Linked DNA regions of Homo sapiens. The protein of the gene in region 3 purifies or fractionates together with the protein of the main gene of each other region. This does not show direct contact. Each region holds a gene or a part of one and is shown on either strand. Other genes may lie near its edges.

The links.
Region 1: the proteins of PTPN18 (region 3) and BAG5 purify together in Homo sapiens (affinity purification with mass spectrometry; 2 studies listed by BioGRID and IntAct, with this or other methods). This does not show direct contact.
Region 2: the proteins of PTPN18 (region 3) and STIP1 purify together in Homo sapiens (affinity purification with mass spectrometry, with the first as the bait; 2 studies listed by BioGRID). This does not show direct contact.
Region 4: the proteins of PTPN18 (region 3) and PSTPIP2 purify together in Homo sapiens (affinity purification with mass spectrometry; 4 studies listed by BioGRID and IntAct, with this or other methods). This does not show direct contact.

What each region holds. Positions count from the first base shown.
Region 1 is NC_000014.9:103,559,639-103,566,478, reverse strand, and holds the start of BAG5 (BAG family molecular chaperone regulator 5), read left to right. Parts: upstream 1-3,821; 5' UTR 3,822-3,863; intron 3,864-4,158; exon of another isoform or gene 4,159-4,566; intron 4,567-5,286; 5' UTR 5,287-5,314; coding exon 5,315-6,658; 3' UTR 6,659-6,840. Other genes in the region: COA8 (cytochrome c oxidase assembly factor 8), read right to left, coding at 3,355-3,477. UniProt on the Homo sapiens protein: Co-chaperone for HSP/HSP70 proteins. It functions as a nucleotide-exchange factor promoting the release of ADP from HSP70, thereby activating HSP70-mediated protein refolding.
Region 2 is NC_000011.10:64,189,166-64,196,190, forward strand, and holds part of STIP1 (stress-induced-phosphoprotein 1), read left to right. Parts: intron 1-3,912; coding exon 3,913-4,122; intron 4,123-5,023; coding exon 5,024-5,165; intron 5,166-5,313; coding exon 5,314-5,455; intron 5,456-6,479; coding exon 6,480-6,648; intron 6,649-7,025. UniProt on the Homo sapiens protein: Acts as a co-chaperone for HSP90AA1. Mediates the association of the molecular chaperones HSPA8/HSC70 and HSP90.
Region 3 is NC_000002.12:130,366,034-130,373,058, forward strand, and holds part of PTPN18 (tyrosine-protein phosphatase non-receptor type 18), read left to right. Parts: intron 1-3,099; coding exon 3,100-3,168; intron 3,169-3,731; coding exon 3,732-3,794; intron 3,795-4,014; coding exon 4,015-4,157; intron 4,158-4,523; coding exon 4,524-4,590; intron 4,591-4,671; coding exon 4,672-4,749; intron 4,750-4,841; coding exon 4,842-4,931; intron 4,932-5,165; coding exon 5,166-5,254; intron 5,255-6,223; coding exon 6,224-6,450; intron 6,451-6,839; coding exon 6,840-6,914; intron 6,915-7,025. UniProt on the Homo sapiens protein: Differentially dephosphorylate autophosphorylated tyrosine kinases which are known to be overexpressed in tumor tissues.
Region 4 is NC_000018.10:46,062,239-46,069,263, reverse strand, and holds part of PSTPIP2 (proline-serine-threonine phosphatase-interacting protein 2), read left to right. Parts: intron 1-7,025. UniProt on the Homo sapiens protein: Binds to F-actin. May be involved in regulation of the actin cytoskeleton.

The DNA.
Region 1 (6,840 bases), on a different chromosome or scaffold from region 3:
ACTTTATCAGATGTCTTGTTTAAATCAATATGCAATGGCTCACTCTTTTTTTTCTTTTTGAGAATGAGTCTTGGTCCATCGCCCAGGCTGGAGTGCAATGGCGCGATCTCGGCTCACTGCAACCTCTGCCTCCTGGGTTCAAGCGATTCTCCCGCCTCAGCCTCCCAACTAGCTGGGATTACAGGTACCACCATCATGCCCGGCTAATTTTTGTATTTTTGTAGAGACAGGATTTCACCATGTTGGCCGGGCTGGTCTTGAACTCCTGACCTCAGGTGATCTGCCTGCCTCAGTCTCCCAAAGTGCTGGCAAGGTGTGAGCCACCATGCCTGGCCGGATCACTCTTATTTACCAGTTTAGTAACTCTAACCAGAAAGAAGATGGGGTTAAACTCTAACCAAAAAGAAGATGGGGTTAAAATGGCTTGTTCTTATGAAAACTCAGGTTCAAATGACTTGTAGGTTCTACCAGTCACAGAAAAATTCAAACCTTAGTAAACAATCCACGGAAACAGGAAAAGAAGGCATACCCTACAGCTCATTTTTGAAGCTAAAAGTGACTTTGGGCCAGGCACAGTGGCTCATACCTGTAATCCCAGCACTTTGGGAGGCTGAGGTGAGCAGATCACCTGAGGTCAGGAGTTCAAGACCACCCTGGCCAACATGGTGAAACCCGTCTCTACAAAAAATACAAAAATTAGCCGGGCATGGTGGTAGGCACCTGTAATCCCAGCTACTCAGGAGGCTGAGGCAGGAGAATTGCTTGAACCCGGGCGGTGGAGGTTGCAGTGAGCTGAGATCACGCCACTGCACTCCAGCCTGGGTGACAGAGCAAGACTCCATCTCAAAAAAAAAAAAAAATTAAAAAAAAAGGTGGGGAGGTGATGGAGGCAGAACCTATGGATTAAAAAGAACTAAAAGGGAGTATCTCTGAACCTATTCTGGTTCAGGAACTTCCGGATTAAAGAAAAAAAAAGAACTAAAAGAGTCAGACTAATTCTTACGTGCAAACAAGTTTAGGAACCAATGATGCAAACTACATAGGTAAGACATAAGCAGGCATGAAGTGGCTAGGGAACAGAATTTAAAAGTCTTAATTTTTTTTTCTTTACCAAAAGCAGTTATATTTCTGAAAAGCTGAGTTTTAAAGATGGATTTGGAAGGAAGAATGGTGCCTGACTCTTAAGTTCTATAATATTTTTCAATTAAAAGCTGGTGCTGGCTGGGCATGGTGGCTCACACTTATAATCTCAGCACTTTGGGAGGCCAAGGCGGGTGGATCACCTGAAGTCAGGAGTTCGAGACCTGCCTGGCCAGCATAGTGAAACCCCATCTCTACTAAAAAAAGAAAAAAAAATTAACCAGGCGTGGCAGCATGCGCCTGTGATCCCAGCTATACTCAGGAGGCTGCGGCAGGAGAATTGCTTGAACCCAGTAGGCAAAGGTTGCAGTGAGCCGAGACTGCGCCATTGCACTCCAGCCTGGGCAACAGAGCAAAAACTCCATCTCGAAAAAAGAAAAAACGAACAAGGCAGAGAGGTCTCTCATCTTGAGAACAGACCCATGGTAAGATTTATTTTACTTTAACAAGAAGTCTAAGGCTGAGAGTGGTGGCTCACACTTGTAATCCTAGCACTTTGGGAGGCCCAGGCAGGCGCATCACTTGAGGTCAGGAGTTTGAAACCAGCCTGGCCAACAGGTGAAACCCTGTCTCTACTAAAAATACAAAAAAATTAGCCGGGCATGGTGGTGGGCCCCTGTAGTCCCAGCTACTCGGAAGGCTGAGGCACGAGAATCGCTTGAGCCCGGGAGGCAGAGGTTGCAGTGAGCTGAGATCACGCCACTGTACTCCCACCTGGGCGACAGAGGGAGACTCCAACTCAAAAAAAAAAAAAAAAAAAAAAAAAAGAAGTGTATATGACAATAGAGAAATCCTTATTTGGGTGCTGTTGTTTCTTTCCAGCACAAGTTCACAAAATAAGCTAGGGAAAATCCCCCCCGCCCGGGAAATGTCTTGGTTGATTTCCCGTTTGCTCTCTTAGAGCATTTTCAGACACCTGCTCTATCTTTCTGCCCAAAGATAGAGATGCTGGGTGGGTTTCTATGTTCTAGGGATAGAAGGCAAGGACTTGGTCACTGTAACACAGAACTGAGCTAGCCACTTGGGTGTCTGGTTGGCAAGTTGCCCTGGTAACTCCTTGTTTAAATTGTAAACTAGATAGACCTTCAAAGCTACAATTATGAAAGTGTACTAACAGCCACAGCCCAACAGAAATGAAAATGTACAAGCAAGTACATTTGCAATTTTTAATTAGCTTTTTTTTTTTTGAGATGAAGTCTCCCTCTGTCGCCAGGCTGGAGTGCAGTGGCGCGATCTCGACTCACAGCAACCTCCGTCTCCCGGGTTCAAGCGATTTTCCTGCCTCATCCTCCCGAGTAGCTGGGTCTACAGGCGCGCGCCACTATGCCCAGCTAATTTCTGTATTTTTAGCAGAGACGTTTCACCATGTTGGGCAGGATGGTCTCACCTCTTGATTTCGTGATCCGCTTGCCTCGGCCTCCCAAAGTGCTGGGATTACAAGCGTGAGCCACGGAGCCCGTCCAATTTTTAATTAACACTTTTTTAATACTTCTTTAATTATTGTTTAAACCAAGTTTTCCAGCCTCCTTCATTAGCCTGTTTGGTATTTGCATGCTTTGCTTGAATATTTTATCTCCAGCCCATTCCACACCGTTAGTCAACATTTTCATCTGACAGACGGAATCAAGGCCTAGGCCTCCCTTAAACAAAACATCCCTCCCAAAAGTACCACTTATAAAAATTGCTTGCCACAGACATTCTTGCTACAGACATTCTTTGCGGATCTTTGGCCAGTAACATGCATATACCCACACATAGTTTGCAAATAACAACTATTCAACGTGAAGTGCTACAAAAGTACGATGATAAAGTGCTCGCCGCTTGAAGAAAAGCACTAATAATTGTAACAAAGCCAAAACACACACACACACAACGAAAAAAAACGCACGGTAAGCCAAGAGCTCTTTAAAAATAAAAAATAATCATTCTCGGGAACAAATAAGGTAGGTACAAACTTGCCAGGTGACTCTGTTACGCTTAAAGGTTCTGGCTGTCAACAGTCCCCGGCGTGGTGGCGGCGGCACCCTCAGTCCCATCCGACTGAGGGCGTTGATGCGGGAGCCTCGGGGCTGCGGGACTGTTCGGGATAGGACGCGAGAGCACCTGGACAAAGGCCTGAGGCGGCTGTGCAGAACAGGGAGTGGCCCCGAGGCCCGGGTTTGTCTTCCCTTCCGGTCACCCCTCCCGGCCCAATGTCCCCAGGCCCCTGCTTACCCCGCTGGGCGCCGTATCCCTGCGCTCGGCGCCGCGCTCCGGAGCGAGTTGACAGCCGCGGCAGGCGAAGGCGCGGCAGAGAGGGGGGAGAAAGGTCTTCTTCCCCGCCCGCAAGACCACCATGGCCCCACGCCCCCTGGCTCCCGCGGCGCACGGCAGCATTGCGACGGCGCGAGGGGCCGCTTTACGGCAGGGTCGCGAAGCCCGAGGAAGCGCGGCGGCGCGGCCGACCGTGCGCTTTCCCAGCGGTGCGACGGGGTGAGGGGGCGGCGGGCGGCGCGGGCTGACCCGGGCGGCCGCTCCTTGGTCGCGGTCACTCCAGGCTGCCTCGCTGCGCCGCTGGCGGTGGGCGTGGCGCTGCCGGCGGCTAGGCGCGGACGCCGGAGGAGGTGTCCCCGGGTTTAGGGGTGTTCGGCCAGGGGCGGGGCTGCCGGGCCCGGGCGACTGCCGGAGCTGCGGAAGTCGTGGAAGCGTCGGCGACGCATCGCGCGATGGCGCGGGCGGGACAGGTGAGCGAAGCGCGGCTTGTAGCCTTTTCCCTCTCTCGGGGGGACGAGTGGGGCACCACCTCCGCGCGGGGCTCCCCGCTGGGCCACCCCTTCGCCAGCGCCCAGCCCCGTGCGGCCTGTCGGATCAGGCAGGGCAGAGTCGGTCTCGGCGCTGTCCCCGCCCCTGGGGTCGGAAGCGACCGGGGCTGGCCGGGCCTGGTCTCTGGTGTCTCCGGCCGGGCCTCGGTTCCCCTCCTCCCCCGGCTTCCCCCGGCCGGGCCGAGCTCCCCTCGCGCGCCCATTGTGAGGTCACGTCCTGCAGGCGCGCCCTGGCACCCGGGCCAAGACGCCCGGAGCGGCTGCTGCAGCCAGTAGCGGCCCCTTCACCGGCTGCCCCGCTCAGACCTAGTCGGGAGGGGTGCGAGGCATGCAGCTGGGGGCCCAGCTCCGGTGCCGCACCCCGTAAAGGGCTGATCTTCCACCTCGCCACCTCAGCCACGGGACGCCAAGACCGCATCCAATTCAGACTTCTTTTGGGTAAAGGGCCAAGAGGGAAGGGCGAGGCGGGGAGGAAGCAGCTCGGGCCGCCTTCCCTCCGTGGCCTCCAGGACATCCGCCGGGGATAGATTATGCGTTTCCATTGGTTACCCACCTTGAGCGAGCCGTTTGATAGAAACCAAGAGCTTGAAACGTGCATTAGGCCATTGTGGACTCCCAGTGGGAGGCGAGTGAATGAATTATTCATAGTTACCACGTTTTCGCGGGTTGTTTTTTTTTGAGAGAGTGGAGCATGTTGGGGGCTGAGGAGGTGTTGGGCCTCGAAAGCCCAAGGTGGTGCCCTTCAGCGCTGTCCCGGTCGCTCTTCTTTACCTGTGGGGTTTTAATCTCTTCAGGGAGACTTCTGTGAGGGAAGATGTGTGAGGAGCTAAAAGGGTGGGGAGGGGAAGTGCACAAAGGGATGGAGAGAAACGAAGAAGCGGGGACCTTGGGGATGTCTGAGAGCCACTGGTTTTTGTTCTGGTTCTTTCTTTTGCTTAGAGTTTCTGGAAACTAGGCATAGCTGTGTGGCGGGGCGGGGTACTGTTAGTGTTCGGAAGGTTACAAGAGCTACTGTTTCACCTTTCATAAAGGTGCCCTGCTGGTTCCAAATAGTTTGTGTCGCGTACGGTGACTCACACCTTAATCCCAGCACTTTGGGAGGCGGAGGCGGGCGGATCGTCTGAGACCAGCCTGGGCAATATAGTGAGACCTGTCTCTACTAAAAATAACATTAGCTGGGCGTAGTGGTGTACGACTGTAGACCCAGCTACTGGGGAGGCTGAGGTGGGATGACTGCTCAGAAGTATACCTTTTTAAAATGAGAATTTTAGAATGACTTAATATACCATTAGTGTTCTGCAGAAGCCTTGTGCTGTAGTAAGTTATCATTCTTGTCGTCTTTTAGTGCTTGTGAAACTGAACACAACAAAAGTATGGATATGGGAAACCAACATCCTTCTATTAGTAGGCTTCAGGAAATCCAAAAGGAAGTAAAAAGTGTAGAACAGCAAGTTATCGGCTTCAGTGGTCTGTCAGATGACAAGAATTACAAGAAACTGGAGAGGATTCTAACAAAACAGCTTTTTGAAATAGACTCTGTAGATACTGAAGGAAAAGGAGATATTCAGCAAGCTAGGAAGCGGGCAGCACAGGAGACAGAACGTCTTCTCAAAGAGTTGGAGCAGAATGCAAACCACCCACACCGGATTGAAATACAGAACATTTTTGAGGAAGCCCAGTCCCTCGTGAGAGAGAAAATTGTGCCATTTTATAATGGAGGCAACTGCGTAACTGATGAGTTTGAAGAAGGCATCCAAGATATCATTCTGAGGCTGACACATGTTAAAACTGGAGGAAAAATCTCCTTGCGGAAAGCAAGGTATCACACTTTAACCAAAATCTGTGCGGTGCAAGAGATAATCGAAGACTGCATGAAAAAGCAGCCTTCCCTGCCGCTTTCCGAGGATGCACATCCTTCCGTTGCCAAAATCAACTTCGTGATGTGTGAGGTGAACAAGGCCCGAGGGGTCCTGATTGCACTTCTGATGGGTGTGAACAACAATGAGACCTGCAGGCACTTATCCTGTGTGCTCTCGGGGCTGATCGCTGACCTGGATGCTCTAGATGTGTGCGGCCGGACAGAAATCAGAAATTATCGGAGGGAGGTAGTAGAAGATATCAACAAATTATTGAAATATCTGGATTTGGAAGAGGAAGCAGACACAACTAAAGCATTTGACCTGAGACAGAATCATTCCATTTTAAAAATAGAAAAGGTCCTCAAGAGAATGAGAGAAATAAAAAATGAACTTCTCCAAGCACAAAACCCTTCTGAATTGTACCTGAGCTCCAAAACAGAATTGCAGGGTTTAATTGGACAGTTGGATGAGGTAAGTCTTGAAAAAAACCCCTGCATCCGGGAAGCCAGGAGAAGAGCAGTGATCGAGGTGCAAACTCTGATCACATATATTGACTTGAAGGAGGCCCTTGAGAAAAGAAAGCTGTTTGCTTGTGAGGAGCACCCATCCCATAAAGCCGTCTGGAACGTCCTTGGAAACTTGTCTGAGATCCAGGGAGAAGTTCTTTCATTTGATGGAAATCGAACCGATAAGAACTACATCCGGCTGGAAGAGCTGCTCACCAAGCAGCTGCTAGCCCTGGATGCTGTTGATCCGCAGGGAGAAGAGAAGTGTAAGGCTGCCAGGAAACAAGCTGTGAGGCTTGCGCAGAATATTCTCAGCTATCTCGACCTGAAATCTGATGAATGGGAGTACTGAAATACCAGAGATCTCACTTTTGATACTGTTTTGCACTTCATATGTGCTTCTATGTATAGAGAGCTTTCAGTTCATTGATTTATACGTGCATATTTCAGTCTCAGTATTTATGATTGAAGCAAATTCTATTCAGTATCTGCTGCTTTTGATGTTGCAAGACAAATATCATTACAGCACGTTAA
Region 2 (7,025 bases), on a different chromosome or scaffold from region 3:
GCCTGGCCAATATGGTGAAACCCTGTCTCTATTAAAAATACAAAAATTAGCTGGATGTGGTGGCACGCGCCTGTAGTCCCGGCTACTTGGGAGGCTGAGGCAGGAGAATCGCTTGAACCCGGGAGGCGGACCTTGAAGTGAGCCGAGATTGCGCCACTGCACTCCAGACTGGGTAACAGCGAGACTCCGTCTCAAAAAAAAAAAATAAATAAATAAGCGGACATTGTGGTGCGCGCCTGTGGTCCCAGCTACGTGGGAGGCTGAGGCAGGACAATTGCTTGAACCTGGCTGGTCGAGGTTGCAGTGAGCCAAGATTGCGCCACTGCCCTCCAGCCTGAATGACAGCGAAACTGCATCTCCAAAAAAAAAAAGTTGGACAGATTTTGAATGTTCAGGCTTTTTTTTTTCAATAGGGGCCTTTCAAATCCCACAATGATACACTTCTTACATTTAACCCAACACAGGCGTACAGCCATGTAACACATTCAGCAAAACAGTATTTACTGTTATGTGCACTGTGTGCTGGTATTTTTTTGTCCCATTTGGTCTCTTAAAATGCTGGTCATGACCTACAAAATTGATTTCCTGACCCACTGTTGATCAGTACTCTGTTTGAAAAATGCTTTTCTAAAGCATAGGCAGGAACTTCACCAGCTGCCTCTTGACACCACTTGAGTTTTGTTAACTCTTCGTCTTCTGGCCTCCATCTTGGGCTCTAGGATTTTTTATCCCTTGTTTGCTTAATTTGGCAGGTTCCTTCTGCCCTTGCCTCTGTAAGGTCTCTGATTGATGGAAGTTCCTGATCTCTCTATTTGAGGATTCCAAAATCATTTCTCTCTTTTTTTTTTTTTTCCAAATAGAGTCTCACTCTGTCCTCCAGGTGAGAATGCAGTGGTGCAATCTCGGCTCACTGCAGCCTCCGACTCCCAGGTTCAGATGATTCTCCTGCCTCAGCCTGCTGAGTAGCTGGGACTACAGGCATGCACCACCACATCCGGGCAATTTATTTATTTATTTATTTTTTTGAGACTGAGTTTCGCTCTTGTTGCCCAGGCTGGAGTGCAATGACGCAATCTCAGCTTACTGCAACCTCCGCCTCCCAGGTTCTAGCAATTTTCCTGCCTCAGCCTCCCAAGTAGCTGGGATTACAGGCATGCACCACCACGCCCGGCTAATTTTTTTTGTATTTTTAGTAGAGACGGGGTTTCTCCATGTTGAGGCTGGTCTCGAACTCCTGACCTCAGGTGATCTGCCCACCTTGGCCTCCCAAAGTGCTGGGATTACAGGCGTGAGCCACTGCACCCGGCAGCAGCTAATTTTTGTATTTGTAGTAGAGACGGGGTTTCACCATGTTGGCCAGGCTGGTCTCGAACTCCTGACCTCAGTTAATCTACCCGCCTCAGCTTCCCAAAGTGCTGAGATTACAGCCTAAAATCATTTCTCTTGACAAAACTATTTCTTGCATCAATTTACTGGGTCGTGGGTGGATAATACATAGAATGAGTTAGTAACTTCGGTGACAACTCTATCTCACAGAACGTTTACCTCTTAAAAGTGTATTTTGGCCTGGTGTGGTGGTTCACCTTTGGGAGACTGAGGCAGGAGGGTTGCTTTAGGCCAAGAGTTTGAGACAAGCCTGGGCAATATGGTGAGACACCATTTCTACCACAAAAAGAAAAAAACATTTAGCCAGGCATGGTGACACACACTTGTAGTCCCAGCTACTTAAAAGGCTGAGTTGGCCGGGCGCAGTGGCTCATACCAGTAATCCCAGCACTTTGGGAGGCCAAGGCAGGCAGATCACCTGAGGCCAGGAGTTCAAGACCAGCCTGACCAACATGGAGAAACCCCGTCTCTACTAAAAATACAAAATTAGACGGATGTGGTAGTGCGTGTCTGTAATCCCAGCTACTCAGGAGGCTGAGGCAGGAGAATCGCTTGAACCTGGGAGGCAGAGGTTGTGGTGAGGCAAGATTGTGCTATTGCACTCCAGCCTGGGCAACCAGAGTGAAACTCTGTCTCAAAAAAAAAAAAAAAAAAGGGCTGAGTCAGGAGGATTGCTTGAGCCCAGGAGCTCAAGGTTACAGTCAGCTGTGATCATGCCACTGCACTCCAGGCTGGTAACAGAGTGAGATGCCATCTTTAAAAAAAAATAAATATGGCCAGGCGCGGTGGCTCACGCCTGTAATCCCAGCACTTTGGGAGGCTGAGATGGGTGGATTAAGAGGTCAGGAGTTCGAGACCAGCCTGGCCAACATGGTGAAACTCCATCTCTACTAAAAATACAAAAATTAGCTGGGCGTGGTGGCGGGTGACTGTAATCCCAGCTACTCAGGAGGCTGAGGCAGGAGAATCGCTTGAACCTAGGAGGCGGAGGTTGCCGTGAGGCAAGATTGTGCCACTACACTCCAGTCTGGGGACAGAGCAAGACTCTGTCTCAAAAAATAATAATAATAAATACAATGAGCTTCTCAAGGGGTTGCCTGCCCTCAGGTAGGCTGCTGTGGGGCACCTGACCTTTTGTGGGGCAGCTCAGTAAGGAGAAACCCTTTAGTGAGGACACTGTTCTGACAGGGCCAAGGCCTGCCTCACTTTTTTTTTTTTTTTAATGAAAAAGTAAAATTTAATGTGGAAAATGCAAACTTGGGGAGGGCAGAAAGATCACACACAAGGCTGTCACTTCACACTTGGAGGGTTGCACAGTGGCCCAACAGAGGCACACCTCACTTGCCAGACGGTGGGGCAGGTGGGCAGAGGTGCTCCTCTCTCCCCAGTCAGTTGGGTGGCCGGGCAGAGGCGCTCCTCACTTCCCAGTCGGTGGGGCGGCCAGGCAGAGCTGCCTCACTTTTTAAAACTGCTGTATCCCACCGGGCGCGGTGGCTCACACCTGTAATCCCAGCACTTTGGGAGGCCAAGGCGTGTGGATCACCTGAGGTCAGGAGTTTTAAGACCAGCCTGACCAATATGGTGAAACCCCGTCTCTACTAAAATTACAAAAATTAGCCAAGTGTGGGGGTGTGCGCCTGTAGTCCCAGCTACTTGGGAGGCTGAGGCAGGAGAATCGCTTGAACCTGGGAGGCGGAGGTTGCAGTGAGCCGAGATCGTGCCACTGCACTCCAGCCTGGGTGACAGAGTGAGACTCTGTCTCAAAAAACACAACAAAACAAAACCCCGCTGTATCCTTACTTCTTGCACTTTATATGTTTGAGAAGGGAGAGGTTTAAACCACAGTAGCATTTCTTCATCCTCCATCCCCTTTGTAATGTAATATTTAAGAATGGCAGGAATCAATTTGGGGAGCTAGCTTGACTGTTACCCATTAATGAACATTTATCTATCCTGTGGTGACATGTTGCCACACCAGGAAATGGAGACTGGTTCTTCCCTGATGGGAGGAGATGACAACTATGCCATAGGCAAGCATCTTGCCGCTCCCAAGAAAGAGAAGTCTCCGCTGCCATCCCACAGCCTTTGGGTCACTGGAGCATGTATCAGTGCCACTCCGCCCACCTTCTTCCTGTGAGGGGTGACTAGGGCTGTGCTCTGTTTGTCATTTGGATGCTTTGGAAATCTGTGGCAAATGAATTGACTTTTCCATGGAAGGAGCATGTGGCACATTCTGGAGTGGCTTCGTGAGCTCCATGTGGAGACCGGAAGAGTGGCAGAGCCCTCGTTCGTCACATGGGGGCCAGCGTGGAGTGCAGCCTGGGCTCTTTGCCCCTGCTTATTTTTTCTTTGCTGGCTCCTTAGGGAAGGTGTGAGAAATTAAATAAATGAACCGGTTTTCTCTCTTCTGATCTGTAAAGTCACCTATTTATTTGTTGGTAACTACATGAAAGAATGAGTGTTGTCTTTAAAGCTTGGGATTAAATGGGCACATCATAGAGAAGCTGTGTGTTCCTTTCCCCTCAGGTCAATGAGCTGAAGGAGAAAGGCAACAAGGCCCTGAGCGTGGGTAACATCGATGATGCCTTACAGTGCTACTCCGAAGCTATTAAGCTGGATCCCCACAACCACGTGCTGTACAGCAACCGTTCTGCTGCCTATGCCAAGAAAGGAGACTACCAGAAGGCTTATGAGGATGGCTGCAAGACTGTCGACCTAAAGCCTGACTGGGGCAAGGTCAGCTGTGGGCAGTGGAGGGAGAGAGGCCCTTCAGACCCTTCCAGAAATGCCTTTTGGTGGCCTGAGGTTTACCTGTCCTGATACACTGATAGTTACCTACCCACCTCCCTGTTTGAGTATCCTCCTCAGAAATGGCATTTTTCATCAAATCTAAGGTAGCCATTAGTTGTAATACAGGCTTTATTTTTGGTACTAAGAAGGAAGAGGCCAGGGCTGGGCGCGGTGACGCACGCCTGTGATCCCAACACTTTGGGAGGCTGAGGTGGGCGGATCACTTGAGGTCAGGAGTTCAAGACCAGCCTGGCCAACATGGTGAAACCCTGTCTGTACTAAAAATGCAAAAAAATTTAGCCAGGCATGGTGGCATGTGCTTGTAGTCCCATCTACTCAGGAGACTAAGGCAGGAGGATCACCTGAGCCTGGCAAGCGGAGGTTGCAGTGAGCTGAAATCGTGCCACTGCATCCAGCCCAGGTGACACGGCAAGACCCTGTCTCAAAAAAAAAGGAAGAGGCCCGGTACAGTGGCTCACGCCTATAATCCCAGCACTTTGGGAGGTTGAGGCAGGAGGATTACTGGAGCCCAAAGGTTTGGGACCAGCCTGGGTAACATAAGGAGTCCCTGTCTTTACCAAAAAAATAAGGGAAAAAGTGTTGCCAAAGAAACTGACCACAGTCGATCAGAGGTGAACAAGGCGGGGCGGATGTGCCTCTGCTATTTGGATGGATCCTTACAGTAGCAGCCTTGGCCTCGTAGCCTACTCCTCTCCTTTTTTTCTCTTTGGCCTTCATGTGAATACTCATTTTTCCCCCATAAAAGTAGAATTGTTCTTTTTTGAGTTCGTCTTCTAGATTTACCTCTGGGTGTTCTCTATTTTGTGTCTGTCTTTGGTGGTTTAAGGGCTATTCACGAAAAGCAGCAGCTCTAGAGTTCTTAAACCGCTTTGAAGAAGCCAAGCGAACCTATGAGGAGGGCTTAAAACACGAGGCAAATAACCCTCAACTGAAAGAGGGTTTACAGAATATGGAGGCCAGGTTGGCAGGTAGGTACCACGCACAGTTTTCTTTCTTATTATTAATGTGATTAATTTTGAGTCTTCACCCCTGAGAAATGTCAGTCTGGTAGGGTATGGGACACAGTAATTCTAGTGAACTCATTTCATAGTGATGTGCTTTCCTTTATTTGGACAGAGAGAAAATTCATGAACCCTTTCAACATGCCTAATCTGTATCAGAAGTTGGAGAGTGATCCCAGGACAAGGACACTACTCAGTGATCCTACCTACCGGGAGCTGATAGAGCAGCTACGAAACAAGCCTTCTGACCTGGGCACGTAAGTGGACGCCGCTCACTGAGGTTCTGGAAATCGGGGAATGTTATGCTTTCTTCCTGTAACCTCACAGCAGAGGGTTCCCTGGTCTAAACTGCAGAGTTTTTGCCTTTGCTTATTCTCTGCAGAGCAGTAGGTGGTGGTCGTTTATTTGTAATTATAGAAAGGGTCAGGGGAGCATATTTCACAGTAATCTAGAATGTTCTTTGTCATCTGTATACACCTCTCTCCTGCTCTTCTAGAACTCTGATCTAGCGTCAACCCCATCCTTTCCATCTACTTAGGCCCTACTTTCTCTGTTGGTATATCAGAGTGGAAACAGGGTTGAAGTTCATGTGTAAAGATGTGTCTAAATCTTGTACTGGTATTCATCTCTATCAATCCTCTGGCTCCTGAGATCAGCTACGGAAGTATACCTAAAACAACTCATTCCTCTGTGTATCTGCTAACCTTGAGGAATAAACTTGACCTCTGTGACTTCATTTTATTTTATTTTATTTTATTTTATTTTTTCAAGATGGAGTCTCGCTCTGTCCCCTAGGCTGGAGTGCAGTGGTGTGATCTCAGTTCGCTGCAACTTCCACCTCCTGGGTTCAAGCGATTCTCCTGCCTCAGCCTCCTGAGTAGCTGGGATTACAGGTGTACGCCACCACGCCCAGCTAATTTTTGTATGTTTAGTAGTAGCGGTGGGTTTCACCATGTTGGCTAGGCTGGTCTCAAACTCCTGACCTCAAGTGGTCTGCCCGCCTCGGCCTCCCAAAGTGCTGGGATTACAGGTGTGAGCCACCGTGCTCCGCTATCTGTGACTTCATTTTATTTGTTTTTGTTGACTCTATTTTAGATAGTGTTTTGACGGTTTGAGTATTTCTCAATTGTAACTCATGAGTGGTGCAAAATCTAGCCATCTTTTGATGGGTGAGGAGCTTCTAAACACAAGAATCTGACTTTAGTAGTAAGTGGGAGTTAAAAGACTAATTGTGGGGAGGAGTAATTACAATTTTTCTTTATTTTTTTAAATCAATACTAGGAAACTACAAGATCCCCGGATCATGACCACTCTCAGCGTCCTCCTTGGGGTCGATCTGGGCAGTATGGATGAGGAGGAAGAGATTGCAACACCTCCACCACCACCCCCTCCCAAAAAGGAGACCAAGCCAGAGCCAATGGAAGAAGATCTTCCAGAGAATAAGAAGCAGGTCTTGTTTTTTTCTCTCCTCACTGTCACCTATCTATAAACAACTAGAAATCTTTATGTTGAATGGGGACATCTGTTGACCTTGATTGACCATGATTATTATGGTTTTTTTAGAGACGGAGTCTTGCTGTGTTTCCCAGGTTGGTCTTGAACTTCTGGCCTCAAGCGATGCTCCTGCTTCAGCTAGGATTACAGTCACGAGCCACTGTGCCCACCTAAAACTATTTTGAGTGCTTTAGTATGCGCTAAGCTTATGGCTATTATTCATTAGAATGGCCAGCATGTTAAAAAATCAGCTTCAGGCCAGGCACGGTGGCTCATGCCTATAATCCCAGCACTTTTGGAGGCCAAGGTGGGCAGATCACCTGAGGTCAGGAG
Region 3 (7,025 bases):
GTTTTGGCTATTTTGGGTAGGTCCCCTGCTGTGCAGAAGAGTTAAACATGGCAAGCATAAATGTTTATGCTTAGAAAGGCCTTCCTGTAAGGTTGACTCTTGGGTGGCCTCTAGAAACCTAGGTTTCTGATAACAGTGGCTCACTATGCCTGAACTGTTAATACAAACAATATGCTTTATGCAGAACACCTGTTCTCCTGCTGGTAGTCTGACATTTTGGTACAGGCTAGGCAGAGTGTGCCTACATTCTGTGCAGACGGTGCCCCAATAAAAATCCTGGGCACTGAGTTTCTAATGAACTTTTTTATGAAACGCTGTTGAGTTTTGTCAAATTTTGTTCTTTGCATCTATTCAGATGATCGTGTGTTTTGTATTCTACTAATATGGTGTATGACATTGACTTTCATATGTTGAACCAATCTTGCATTCCTGGAATTAATCCCACTTAGTCATGGTGTTTAATACTTTGCTAGTACTTCATTGAGAATTTTTGTGTCTATGTTTGTGAGATATTGGTTAGTAGTTTTCTTTTCTTGTGATGTCTTTGGTTTTGGTGCCAGGGTAATACTAGCCTCATACAATATGTTGGGAAATGGTTCCTCTCAGTTTTTTGCAAGAGTTTGTGAAAGGCTGGTATTAATTCCTCTTTGTTTGATAAAATTCACTAGATTATCTTTTAAAGATGTTTAAAATGAAATATCTTTTACATTTAGCCACTTACTTTTCTCCCTGTTATTTTGTGTAGATCTGTATTTCCATTTGTATCACGTTCCTTTTGTATGCAGAGCTTACTTATTCTATTTATTTAAGAGATAGGGTCTCACTCTGTCATACAGGCTGGAGTGCAGTGTGCAGTCACCACTCACTGCAGCCTCAAACTCCTGGGCTTAAGCAATCCTCCCACCTCAGCCTGCCAAGTAGTTGGGAGTACAGGTGTGCCACTGCACTCAGCTAACTAAAAAAGATTTTTTTTAGATACAGGCTAGCTATGTTGCCAACACACCTAGCTAATTTTAATTTTTTTTTTTTTTTTTTTTTTTTTTTTAAGATACAGGCTATGTTGCTCAGGCTGGTGTTGAAGTGGCCTCAAGCAATCCTCCTGCCTTAGCCTCTCAAATAGCTGGAGCAGCCACTGTCTGTAAGCATCTGAAGAGCTTACTCTAATATTTCTCATAATGCAGATTTGTTTGTGATGAATTCCCTCAGCTTTCATTTGTCTGAAAAGGTTTTCAGCATTTTTAGGATATCATAGCATTGACTTGCCGTTTCTGACAAAATGTTGCTATAATTCTTAACTTTGTTCCTCAGTATGTGATGTGTCCTTTTGTGCATAATGCTTTTAAGATTTTCTCTTCTGGGGCCTGGTGTGGTGGCTCATGCCTGTAATCCCAGCACTTTGGGAGGCCAAGGTAGGTGTATCACTTGAGGTCAGGAGTTCGAGACCAGCCCGGCCAACCTGGTGAAACCCTGTCTCTACTAAAAATACAAAAAAAGGTTGGACATGGTGGTGTGTGTCTGTAATCCCAGCTACTCAGGAGCCTGAGGCAGGAGAATCGCTTGAACCTGGGAGTTGCAGGTTGCAGTGAGCCGAGATTGAGCCACTGCACGCCAAGCCTGGGTGACAGAGCAAGGGTCTCAAAAAAAAATTTTTTTTTCTCTTCTTCATTCTTTTTCAGTAATTTGATCATGATCTGCCTTGGCGTGACTTTCTTTAGGTTTAGGTTTATTCTCCCTCTGGTTCATTGACTTTCTTGGATTTGTGGGTTCATAGTTTCATCGAATTTGGGAAAATTTTCACCTATTATTTCTTTACATAAAGTTTCTGTTATCCCCCTTTCTCCTTTCCTTCTGGACTCCACGTGCACATACACTAGACTGGTATATTTCTACAGAGAACTGATTCTTTTTCATTTTTTTCATTTCATTTTGAATTATTTATATTGCTATGTTTTCATGTCTATTGATCCTTTCTTCTAGTGTCTACCCTGCTATTAGTGGATTTTTCATTTCATATATTTTATTTTTCCTCTTTATAAATTCCATTCAGGTTATTTTTTGTATCTTTCATTCCACTCTGCATCATGTTCATGTTTTCCTTTTCATCTTTGAGTGTATTTGTAATAGCCATTTTAAGATTTTTGCTTCTTTCCTGAACTGTTATTTCTGGGCCCTTTCCTATTGACTAATTTTTCTCCTGGTTATGGGTCACACTTTCCTGCTTCTTTGTATGTCCAGCAAAATTTTATTGGATGCTTGATATTTTGAATTTTGCACAGGTAAGTGTTGGATTGTTTTCTTTAGAGTGTTTTGCCTTTTCAGGAACTTTTGGATGGTTGATCAAGTAGCCTTTGTTCTAGAATTAATTTAGCCGTACTTCTAATGTGTGGTCATTCTAGGTTCCCTACTAAATGCCCCTTATAGTTGATAATGCCTCTACACTCTAGCTAGAGGGAATGTGAATTCTTTCTCATCATGAGCTCAAGGAAATGTTCATCCTACAGATCCCTACTATTCTTTCATGGTAAGTTATTCTTGCCTGGCCTCATGGGGTTTCATGTTGTATATATTCAGATTATTCAACCAAAGAATCAAGGAGGGGACTTCTATGCAAGTTATTGTTTTGTTTTTATTTGCATACCTCTGTTCCTTCCAGGACTCTGCCCTGCAAATTCTAGCTGCTTTTGCCTCCTTGAGCCATGGTCTCTGGCTCAACTCAGTGGGATCATTAGACTCATGTCTTACAGCCTGGTGACACTTCCATGCAATAAGCCGGAGTGGTCTGTTCAGTGACCACAGTACTGCAACACCTGCCAACCAGTGTCTGAAAATAGTGGCTCATGTATTTTGTCCAGTTTCTAGTTGCTTACAGTGGGAGGGTATCCTGGACTGTATTTCCCCTGCATGGTCAGCAGCGCACCTCCATTGAGTCTGCATGTGTTTAATCTGATGGCTCTGTTGGCTGGCGTCTGTTATAGGTTATAAGTATAGCTGCCTGTGCTTCCACCACGAGCACCTGGGGTGTCTTGTGGCATGATTGAGCTAGCTCTGAAGCTGACTCCCTCTTCTCACTCCCTGCCTTTTCTCCCTTACCTTTTGCAGAAAAGGTGTGAGCGGTACTGGGCCCAGGAGCAGGAGCCACTGCAGACTGGGCTTTTCTGCATCACTCTGGTGAGCTGTGGGAGTTTTCAAGGAAGATTCCCAGGGTGGAAAGGCTTTGGGTTGGGCCTAAAAGGTTGAATGATTTAACCCACAGTCCACTCATACTGCAGGAAACCCTCTGGTGTTAGCCTGCAAATAGTTAGAACTTACTATAGGGATAGCCTTTGCATTTTTATTTTGGCTACAATCAGTTAATCTCTGTCATGTAAATGTGCCTGGTTAGGTTGTTGAAATTCTTACTTCTCTTACCATTTCAAAAGAGCTTGGGGAACTCTCTCAAGTCATACATACAGTTAGTACTTAATAAATGCAATAAAAGTTTCATTTTAGAACAAAAGACATCTCTTTTCATTGCAAAAGGGCTTGTGTTTTTATAATAGTTCCTCTTTTGCTCCTGTGTCAAATGTTTCCTTAATGAAAGCTTTGGGGAAAGTTTGGGCTATATGAATTTTTAAAATGTTTTCTGTATTTGATTTTTTAATCAGGAATGCTTTGCTTTCTATAAATGTCTTCTGGTACCTATGATCTTTGTTCTCCTCCCTCTTCTTACTTGCCCCACCCCCCTTACTCAGATAAAGGAGAAGTGGCTGAATGAGGACATCATGCTCAGGACCCTCAAGGTCACATTCCAGAAGGTACTGTGACAGGGGAGGAGGAGGTAAAGGGGCTCCTGAAAGGGGAGAGGTTTCCTCTCCTGTAAAAATGGGCATCATACTAGTACCCACTTCCTCAGTTATTGTCTGGTAGACATAAATGGAAGATGCCTAGAAGTGGGCCTGGTGTATAGTAGATGGCCAATTAATGCTTTTTTCTTTTTTTTCCTAAGTCTTTTGCTCATCTTTTTCTGTGTTTCAGGAGTCCCGTTCTGTGTACCAGCTACAGTATATGTCCTGGCCAGACCGTGGGGTCCCCAGCAGTCCTGACCACATGCTCGCCATGGTGGAGGAAGCCCGTCGCCTCCAGGGATCTGGCCCTGAACCCCTCTGTGTCCACTGCAGGTTTTGGAAATGGGCTTCAGGAGGGTCTGGTGAGGCAGAGGGGACAGAGCATGGAGGGGAGTACAGGGCATGGGGCTAGTCTTGTAGTCTGAGTGCCTATTTTGAGAACCCTTGCTCACCCTCCATGGACTGTAATTGTGAGCACTTGTTCAGCACAGACTCAGCTGGGGAATAAGCACACAGCTCTTGCTCAACAAAATGTAAGTGATTAAAAAGGTTTTCCTTGTTCAGATATAATCTGAAGATTCTGGGAATCAAGAGGCTCTGCAGGGGATCCATCAGGACCCTCACCCCCATCCCCAAATGCCCCATCTAAAAGGGGTTGTGGTCAGGACCTGACCAGGCACACTCTGATTCTCTTGTCAGTGCGGGTTGTGGGCGAACAGGCGTCCTGTGCACCGTGGATTATGTGAGGCAGCTGCTCCTGACCCAGGTACGATACAGGCATCCTGTGTGTGCAGTGTGCTGCCCATGACCACGTGTCCTGCTCAAGTGCCTTGTCTGTCTGCCCCAGATGATCCCACCTGACTTCAGTCTCTTTGATGTGGTCCTTAAGATGAGGAAGCAGCGGCCTGCGGCCGTGCAGACAGAGGTGAACCCTGGGTCTCCTAATCTTCAGGGACAGTGGCCCACTGCTGTCATTTGCCCCTGCCTTCCCTTCTTGATGGTCCCTCACCCCAACAGGAGCAGTACAGGTTCCTGTACCACACGGTGGCTCAGATGTTCTGCTCCACACTCCAGAATGCCAGCCCCCACTACCAGAACATCAAAGAGGTACAGAGGCTCCTTTCCCACTCTCCTGTCCACCATCAGCACCCTCAGAGACCAGGACCCCGAGCAGGGTCCAGCCCCCGGGACTACTGGGAGCAGGCACTGACTATGACATCCACCTGTGCCCTCCTCCAGGCATCCTTATCAGGCTCTCCCATCTTAAGCTTTCTCCCAGAGCCCCTTGAGAGGCCTGGCCAGCTTCCTCCCTCAGGAGCCTCCCCTCCTGTTTTTCTTCAGAATTGTGCCCCACTCTACGACGATGCCCTCTTCCTCCGGACTCCCCAGGCACTTCTCGCCATACCCCGCCCACCAGGAGGGGTCCTCAGGTACCCGGCTCCATCCCCGGATTCTTCCCTGCCCAATTTCTCAGGCTAACCCCTTCTTCATCCTTGGAACACCAGTCCGTTCCTTGTTCACTTCGCCAAGTGTTCGCTGGCCCTTTCTTCGAATTGAGCTCTGGGAACCCACCCCAAGATGATTCAATTATCCCAAGATGATTCATTTACCCCTTGCCTCTGCCTCTAAGGCTTGCCCTGCCTTCTGAGTTAGGCCTTTCCTGGATCCTCTAATCAAACCTTAATTCAGGTGGCTCACCCCTGTAATCCCAGCACTTCGGGAGGCCAAGGAGGGCGGATCACTTGAGCCCAGCTGGAGACCAGCCTGGTTAACATGGTGAAACCCTGTCTCTACTAAAAATACAAAAATTAGCCAGGCGTGCTGGTGAGAGCCTGTAATCCCAGCTACTCCGGAGGCTGAGGCAGGAGAGTCGCTTGAGCCCGGGAGGTGGAGGTTGCAGTAAGCCGAGATCGCACCACGGCAGTCCAGCCTGGGCGACAGAGCGAGATCCTGTCTCAAAAAAACAACAAAAAAAATTCAGCAAATAATTCTAGACGCCGCCTTCTTGTCAGGCCGCACGTTGGGTGCTGCGGACATGGGATTGAGCCGCCTTCGCAGCGGAGACTTAAGGCCCTTGTCCTTGCGGCCATCCCTTCCTGTCTTCTATGCCACTTCCGCATTCTTTTGTTCAGTAGACGTTGACACAGAAATGACCACCCCTCAAACCAACACTCTGCCCCAAATTACCCTCCAGGCTGACCCCGTTCCTCCTTCATCCCCCTAACTTGCAGGGCGCTAGGGACACAGAAGCGAGGCCTCCAACCCAAGGAGCCCTCCCTCCCATCTAGCGCACCGCCTCGGCGGGAAGGAAGCCCGTGGTTTGCGCGCTGAGCAGCCTCCCCACTCCCGCCCTGCCCAGCGCCGCCGTTTCACTTCCTCCCGGCCCTCCCTGCCTGCAGGAGCATCTCTGTGCCCGGGTCCCCGGGCCACGCCATGGCTGACACCTACGCGGTGGTGCAGAAGCGCGGGGCTCCAGCGGGCGCCGGGAGTGGGACGCAGACGGGGACGGGGACGGGGACGGGGGCGCGCAGCGCGGAGGAGGCGCCGCTCTACAGCAAGGTGACGCCGCGCGCCCAGCGACCCGGGGCGCACGCGGAGGACGCGAGGGGGACGCTGCCTGGCCGCGGTGAGTCGAGGCTTGCTCCTTCTCAGGGCATCATCCTGCTGTGATCCGCAGGGCGGAACCATCCTGCAGTGGTCCGTCAGGCCCTGGCGGCCGCGGGGACCCCAGCCGCTAGCCTGGCCACGCCCCGACGCTGATGTCCAGGCGTCCCTGGCCACGCCCCGGAAGCGCCCCCTGGCGGTCGCAGTCGCGGTCCAGGGGCAGGGTTCCTGGCAATACTTGTCTTGGCCGCGCCCAAAGGCTGGAGGCCACGTCCGGGGTGTGTGCCTTCTCCCGCCCGGCGCCCTCGGCTCTCCCCTTCGGGCCTCCGGGGAAGCGTCCCCGCTAGGGGTGGGGTCTTGGGACTCCCTGGGGCTTCCGGAGCTGACCCGTGGGGGGTCTGCTGCCCTCAGTTCCTGCTGACCAAAGTCCTGCCGGATCTGGCGCCTACGAGGACGTGGCGGGTGGAGCTCAGACCGGTGGGCTAGGTAAGTCAGGTAGAGCCTGGGTTGCTGGGACTTTGCTGCTTTGAGTGAACCCAGGAGTCTGGGGTTGATGGGGCATGGAGCTTAGTCCTGTGGATGTGGCTGCAGTGAACC
Region 4 (7,025 bases), on a different chromosome or scaffold from region 3:
TTCCAGTTTTTGGGATGATCAGACACCAGTGTCCTTCAGATACGGGCATGCACGGGTGACAGTGGGACCCGTTTTGGAAGGGTAGATGAAAGCAGTGTTCTCTCACCCCTGGGGATTTCCAGGCTTCTCACTTGGGTGTGAGGTCCAAATCGTCCCTGAACCTCCTGTAGATACTTATTTTTCCTGGGCCTTCCTGATTCCCAAGGTTCTTGGTGTAGACCAGCTTCCTAGTTGCTGTTTCAGCAACCCTGTTCCTGTAGTGGGCAGGGCTTCTCTCTGCCTGGGATTGACTAGGGAAAGTCTTGGGGCTGTCTGAACTGGCTCATTGCCCTGCTGTCAACACAAGGCTGTCACTCTCATCCAAACCTTTTACCAGATTGGAATCTTGTCATTCTGGAGCCTTAGCAGAGTTTGAACTGATGTTGCCTCTGGCTTTGCTCAATGGTTTTTCTCTATACAGTCATCTCTTGGTATCTGTAGGGGATTGGTTCTAGGACTCCCATGCAGGTACCAAAATTCATGGACATTCAAGTCCTTTCTTTTCTTTTTTCTTTTTCAATACAGAGATTGGGTCTTGCTATGTTGGCCAGGCTGGTTTCAAACTCCTTGCCTCAAGCTATCCTCTTGCCTTGGCCTCCCAAAGTGCTGGGATAAGAGGTGTAAGCCGGCCGGGCATGGTGGCTCACACCTGTAATCCCAGCACTTTGGGAGGCTGAGACGGGTGGATCACGAGGTCAGGAGATCGAGACCATCTCGGCTAACACAGTGAAACCCCGTCTCTACTAAAAATACAAAAAAATTACCCGGGCATGGTGGTGGGCGCCTGTAGTCCCAGCTACTCAGGAGGCTGAGGCAGGAGAATGCTGTGAACTTGGGAGGTGGAGCTTGCAGTGAGCTGAGATCGTGCCATTGCACTCCAGCCTGGGCGACAGAGCGAGAATCTGTCTCAAAAAAAGAGGTGTAAGCCACTATGCCTGTCCTCAGATTCTTTCTATAAAATGGTGTAGTATTTACATATAACCTACACACATCTTCCTGTATACTTTAAGTATTCTCCAGATTGCTTATAATACCTAATATAATGTTAATGCTATGTAAATAGTTGTTTACACTGTATTTTTTATTTGTATTTTTTAATTGGTATATTTTTATTTTTTAATTTTTGGAATATTTTTCATCTGTGGTTGGTTGAATCCATGGATGCAGATATGGAGAACTGACTGTACAGTGCTCTAGATAAATATAGGAGGCTGCTTTAAAAAAAAAATACAGAAAGAATACAGGTTAACACCACAGAGTCTCCCTGCTGACCCCATAGTGTATTTTGTACAATGTTTAGATTGTTGCTGTAATTTTTAAATACTCTCTCGGATTTTATGAAAAGAAAAACTTCAGACTAGTTAAATTTAGCAGAGTTTATCTGAGCAAAGAAACTATTCATGAATCAGGCAGCACCCTGAACCAGTAAAGGTTCAGAGAGCTCCACAAGGCAAAAGTGGGCAGGCAATACTTACAGAAAAAAGAGGTGATACAGAAATAGCCTGATTGGTTACACCTGGGTGGTTGCCTTATTTGGACTTGACTGGGCAGTCTGCAGCCTGGGATTGGCTGAAAGCTCCCCTGTTATGATTGGCAGAGACCCAGCTACTTGTTACAAGAATATACTCTTAGTTAGGTTACGGTTTGTTTACACACTAAGTTAGGTTGTGGCTTGCTATTTATGGAGGCAGCTTTAGGCCAACATTTTTTTTTTTTTTTTTTGAGACAGAGTCTCGCCCTGTTGCCCAGGCTGGAGTCCAGTGGTGCGATCTCGGGTCACTGCAAGCTCTGCCTCCTGGGTTCACACCATTCTCCTGCCTCAGCCTCCTGAGTAGCTGGGACTACAGGGGCCCGCCACCACGCCCGGCTAATTTTTTTGTATTTTTAGTAGAGACGGGGTTTCACCGTGTTAGCCAGGATGGTCTCGATCTCCTGATCTCGTGATCCGCCCGCCTCGGCCTCCCAAAGTGCTGGGATTACAGGAGTGAGCCACTGCGCCCAGCCTAGGTCGAATTTAATTTGACAATCTGGTCCCCAGAAACACACCAGGAGGGCTGTTTCCTTTTGTCTTGCCTAGTGGCAAAAGGGAAGATAGAGTCATGAACAATTACCTGCTCTCCCATACATTCTTTGTAGAGCAGCCGGAGGGAGCTAGCTTTAAAATAATCGTCAAAAACCTCTTTTTTTTTTTTTTTTTGAGATGGAGTTTCACTTTTGTTGCCCAGGCTGGAGTGCAGTTGCGAGATCTCGGCTCACTGCAACCTCTGCCTCCCGGGTTCAAGCGATTCTTCTGCCTCAGCCTCCCGAGTAGCTGGGATTACAGGCATGCGCCACCACGCCCGGCTAATTTTTTGTATTTTTAGTAGAGACGGGGGTTTCACCAGGTTGGGCAGGCTGGTCTGGAACTCCTGACCTCAGGTGATTCGCCCGCCTGGGCAAAGTGCTGGGATTACAGGCGTGAGCCACCGCACCCGGCCTGTTCCACCCTTTTAAAGAAACTGTTCTGCTGTGACTGGCTGGTGGTCTTGCATGAGGAGAATATCATTAAGGACGGGCTCTGGCTTCTTTAGAAGCCCTATACTCAAGAAGGGGTGCAGCACAAAGCCCACACACGTGGGGCTCACCTTCTGGTGAGAGACCTTGTGACCAACGGAGAAAACACAGCAACTTGTTGAAGAGAGGAACTTCTTCTCCATTCCCCACGTAATCTCAGGCAGTTCAACTCAGCAAATGTCTATGTGAAGTCTGAGTGGCCAGCCTTGTGGTAGCTGCTGTGGGCTCACAGAGAGACAGACACACAACATCTCACCTCTAAGAGATTATTAGCTACTCAAGAAGATGAGTCTCAACATGAAATTTTAAAACAGTAGTTTTAATTTAATTAAATTATTTATTTTTGAGACAGGGTCTTGCTCTGTCACTCAGGCTAGAGTGCAGTGGTGCGATCACGGCTCACTGCAGCCTCAAACTCCTGGGCTCAAGCAATCCTCCCAAGTAGCTGGAACCGCAGGCACATGCCACCACGCCTGGTTAATTTTTGTATTTTTTGTAGAAACGCTGTTTCACCATATTGCCTAGGCTGGTCTCAAACTCCTGAGCTCAAGCAATCTGCCTGCCTTGGCCTCCCAAAATGCTGGGATTACAGGCATGAGCTACTGCACCTGGCCAATAGTTTTTAATATTAACATAAAATTAAGGTTATTAAAATATATATTATTAGTGATTTGGTACTTTCCCAACTTTTTTCCTCCATGCATAATTATAATCCTATAGTATCTGTACTATCTTGTATTCTACTGCTTTAATTAAAATATCGTAACTTTGGCTGGGCACAGTGGCTCATGCCTGTAATCCCAGCACTTTGGGAGGCCAAGGCGGGTGGATCACTTGAGATCAGGAGTTTGAGACCAGCCTGGCCAACATGGTGAAATCTCGTCTCTACTAAAGAAATACAAAAATTGGCCGGGCGCGGTGGCTTACGCCTGTAATCCCAGCACTTTCAGAGGCTGAGACAGGTGCATCACAAGGTCCGGAGTTCGAGACCAGCCTGGCCGATATGGTGAAACCCTGTCTCTACTAAAAATACAAAAATTAGCCGGGCGTGGTGGTGGGTGCCTGTAGTCCCAGCGACTCGGGAGGCTGAGGCAGGAGAATCACTTGAACCCGGGAGGCGGAGGTTGCAGTGAGCCAAGATCACACCACCATACTCCAGCCTGGGCAACAGAGTGAGACTCCGTCTCAAAACAAACAAACAACCGAAAACAAAAATTAGCCAGGCATGGTGGTGGGCACTTGTACTCAGCTACTTGGGAGGCTGAGACAGGAGAATCGTTTGAACCCAGGAGGCGGAGTTTGCAGTGAGCTGAGAGCATGCCACTGCACTCCAGCCTGGGCGACAGAGCCAGACTACATCTCAAAAAAAAAAAAAATTATAACTTATTTTATATATTGCTATCTACTTTCCCTAACAATTATTTAGAAAAGTTTTGTGAGTGATACAACTATTCTGTCACTGTTTGGCATTTATGTAATTTCTAGAGTTTTCTTTTCTTTTCTTTTCTTTTTTTTTTTTTTTTTTTTGAGACAGAGTTTCGTTCTTGTTGCCCATGCTGAAGTGCAATGGCACGACCTCGGCTCACTGTAACCTCCGCCTCCTGGGTTCAAGCAATTCTCCTGCCTCAGCCTCCCAAGTAGCTGGAATTACAGGCATGCACCACCATGCCTGGCTAATTTTGTATTTTTAGTAGAGATGAGGTTTTTCCATGTTGGTCAGGCTGGTCTTGAACCCCTGACCTCAGGTGATCTGCCTGTCTCAGCCTCCCAAAGTGCTGGGATTACAGGCATAAGCCACCGCACCCGGCCCAGTGTTTTCTATAATAAAGAATGTGGTGCATGTCATTCGTGTAAGGTATTTAAAATTGGGATTCTTTAAGTATCTATTTCTGGAAACTCAAGACAGAACTCATCATTGCCCAGCCATTTTACTATGTTTCTCTAATAAGTCACTCTTGCCCTTTCTGCAGTGATAATTTCATGCCTTTTCCACTCAAACCTACACATCCCTCCCACATTCTCACTGTGTTTTGGTGATCTTGCCTCTACTCCATTAAGAAACCAGACAGCAGGGCTGGGCGTGGTGGCTCATGCCTGTAATCCCAGCACTTTGGGAGGCCCAGGCGGGTGAATCACCTGAGGTCAGGAGTTGGAGACCAGGCTGGTCAACATGGTGAAACCCCGTCTTTACTTAAAAAAAAAAAAAAAAAAAAATTAGCCAGGTGTTGTGGTGGGTGCCTGTAGTCCCAGCTACTCGGGAGGCTGTGGCAGGAGAATCGCCTGGACTTGGGAGGGGGCGGTTGCAGTGAGCCAAGGTCACTCCGCTGCACTCCAGCCTGGGCAACAGAATGAGACTCTGTCTCAAAAAAAAAAAAAAAAAAAAAAAAAAGAAAGAAAAAGAAAGAAGAAAAAAAGAAAAGAAAAAAGAAACCAGAGCAGCTGGTGAAAGCTCACTTACCTTCTGTATAAATAGGATTCAGTTTGGCTGCAAGTAATAGAAAACCCCAAAACAACAGTGGCCTAGACAAGGAAGAGGTTTATTTCTCTCTCATCTACAAGCCCCTGATTGGTCATTCCAGGGCTGGCATGGCTGCCCTTGGGGTGAGGACCCACACTCCTGTCTGCTTACTCCAGTGGTGCCTGGTTCAATGCCTGGCACATGACAGATTCTCAGTAATACCTACTGAATGACTGAAAAAACCATTAACTAACAGAAGGACATTGAAAAACTTTTGATATGTAGAACCAGGATGATTTCCTAAAGAGTGGGCCTATTCTCAGTGTTCCCAATAGTATGTGCGGATGCTAGTTTCACTCTGTCAGTCATAGCTATTGTCTTTTTTTCTGCTCATTCAATAAGCAAAACTTGGTGCCTTATTCAACTTTCATTTGCGTTTTTATCACCAGGGAGAGTGCACATTTGGTTATTTTCTTGTAATTCCTCTTTTACAAATGGTTTTGTTTTCTTCCTCATGCTTTGCTTGTAAATTTATATGCATATTTTAAAATATATATTTTTGTATATATACACGTGTGTGTGTGTGTGTGTGTGTGTGTAATTCACATGTTCTAACATCCAGTATAGGCATGACACAGTGAGAGGCAGTCCTCAGGCCCTCAAGCTTTTGCACTGGACATTCCCGGGTTTGATTCCCAGTTTGGCTCCTTTCAAGCCAAAGAATGTGTGTGCCCGTGTTCAAATTATTCAGCTTTCCTCAGCTTTGCCTCCTCATCTGTAAAATGATATATGTATATGGATTTTGAAAACACTTTATACAGTCAAGTTTATTGATCTAAAGTTTTGTGATTTCTTCTATTACACTTCGAGGTTTTCTGTGGTCCAAGTTTTACTCAATATGTGTCTTATGATTGGGCGCTGTGGCTCATGCCTATAATCCTAGTACTTTGGGAGGCCGAGGTGGGACAATTGCTTGAGTCCAGGGGTTCAAGACCAGCCTGGGCAACATATTGAGACCCTGTCTCTACAAAAAAAATTTTAAAATTAGCAAGGCATGGTGGCCAGTACCTGCAGTCCCAGATAATCAGGAGGCTGAGGCAGAAGGATCACTTGAGTCCATGCGGTTGAAGCTGCAGCGAGCCGTGATTACACCACTGCACTGCAACCTGGATGACAGAGCAAGACGCTGTCTCACTAAAAATACTGTCTTTTGAGTATGAGGGCTTAAGTGTTCTGACATTTGCAGAAGTCAGAGACCTGTGTGGACCTGCAAAATGAGGAGGAGGTGGATTCCTGCCCTCAGGGTCCTACATTCTTCTTAAGGAAGCAAACAAAGATGTAGGACACTAATGGGAAACAGACTGACCTACTCTCCTTCAGGCTAAAAAGAGTGGTTTACCTGCCGGGATGGTGGCTCCTGCCTGTAATCCCAGCACTTTGGGAGGCCAAGGCAGGTGGATCACGAGGTCAGGAGATTGAGACCTTCCTGGCTAACACGGTGAAACCCCGTCTCTACTAAAAGTAGAAAAAAATTAGCCAGGTGTGGTGGCATGTGCCTGTAGTCCCAGCTACTCAGGAGGAGAATTGCTTGAACCTGGGAGGCAGAGGTTGCAGTGAGCCGAGACTGCACCACTGCACTCCAGCCTGGGTGACAGAGCGAGACTCCGTCTCCAAAAAAAAAAAAGTGGTTTACTGGGGCAAGTTTCTTTTTCTTTTTCTTTTTCTTTTTCTTTTTAGTAGAGATGGGGTTTCACCATGTTGGCCAGGCTGGTCTTGAACTCCTGACCTCACATGATCCACCCACCTCGGCCTCCTAAAGTGCTGGGATTACAGGCATGAGCCACCATGCCTAGCATACCAGGGCAAGATTCTTGGACAAGTCTGGCTGGGTGAGTGCGATAGGGTACCACTCCTTGAAGAGTGCTAAAATGGCACCAGGCATGCAACAAGATGGGGAAATCTTTGTTTTCAGAAT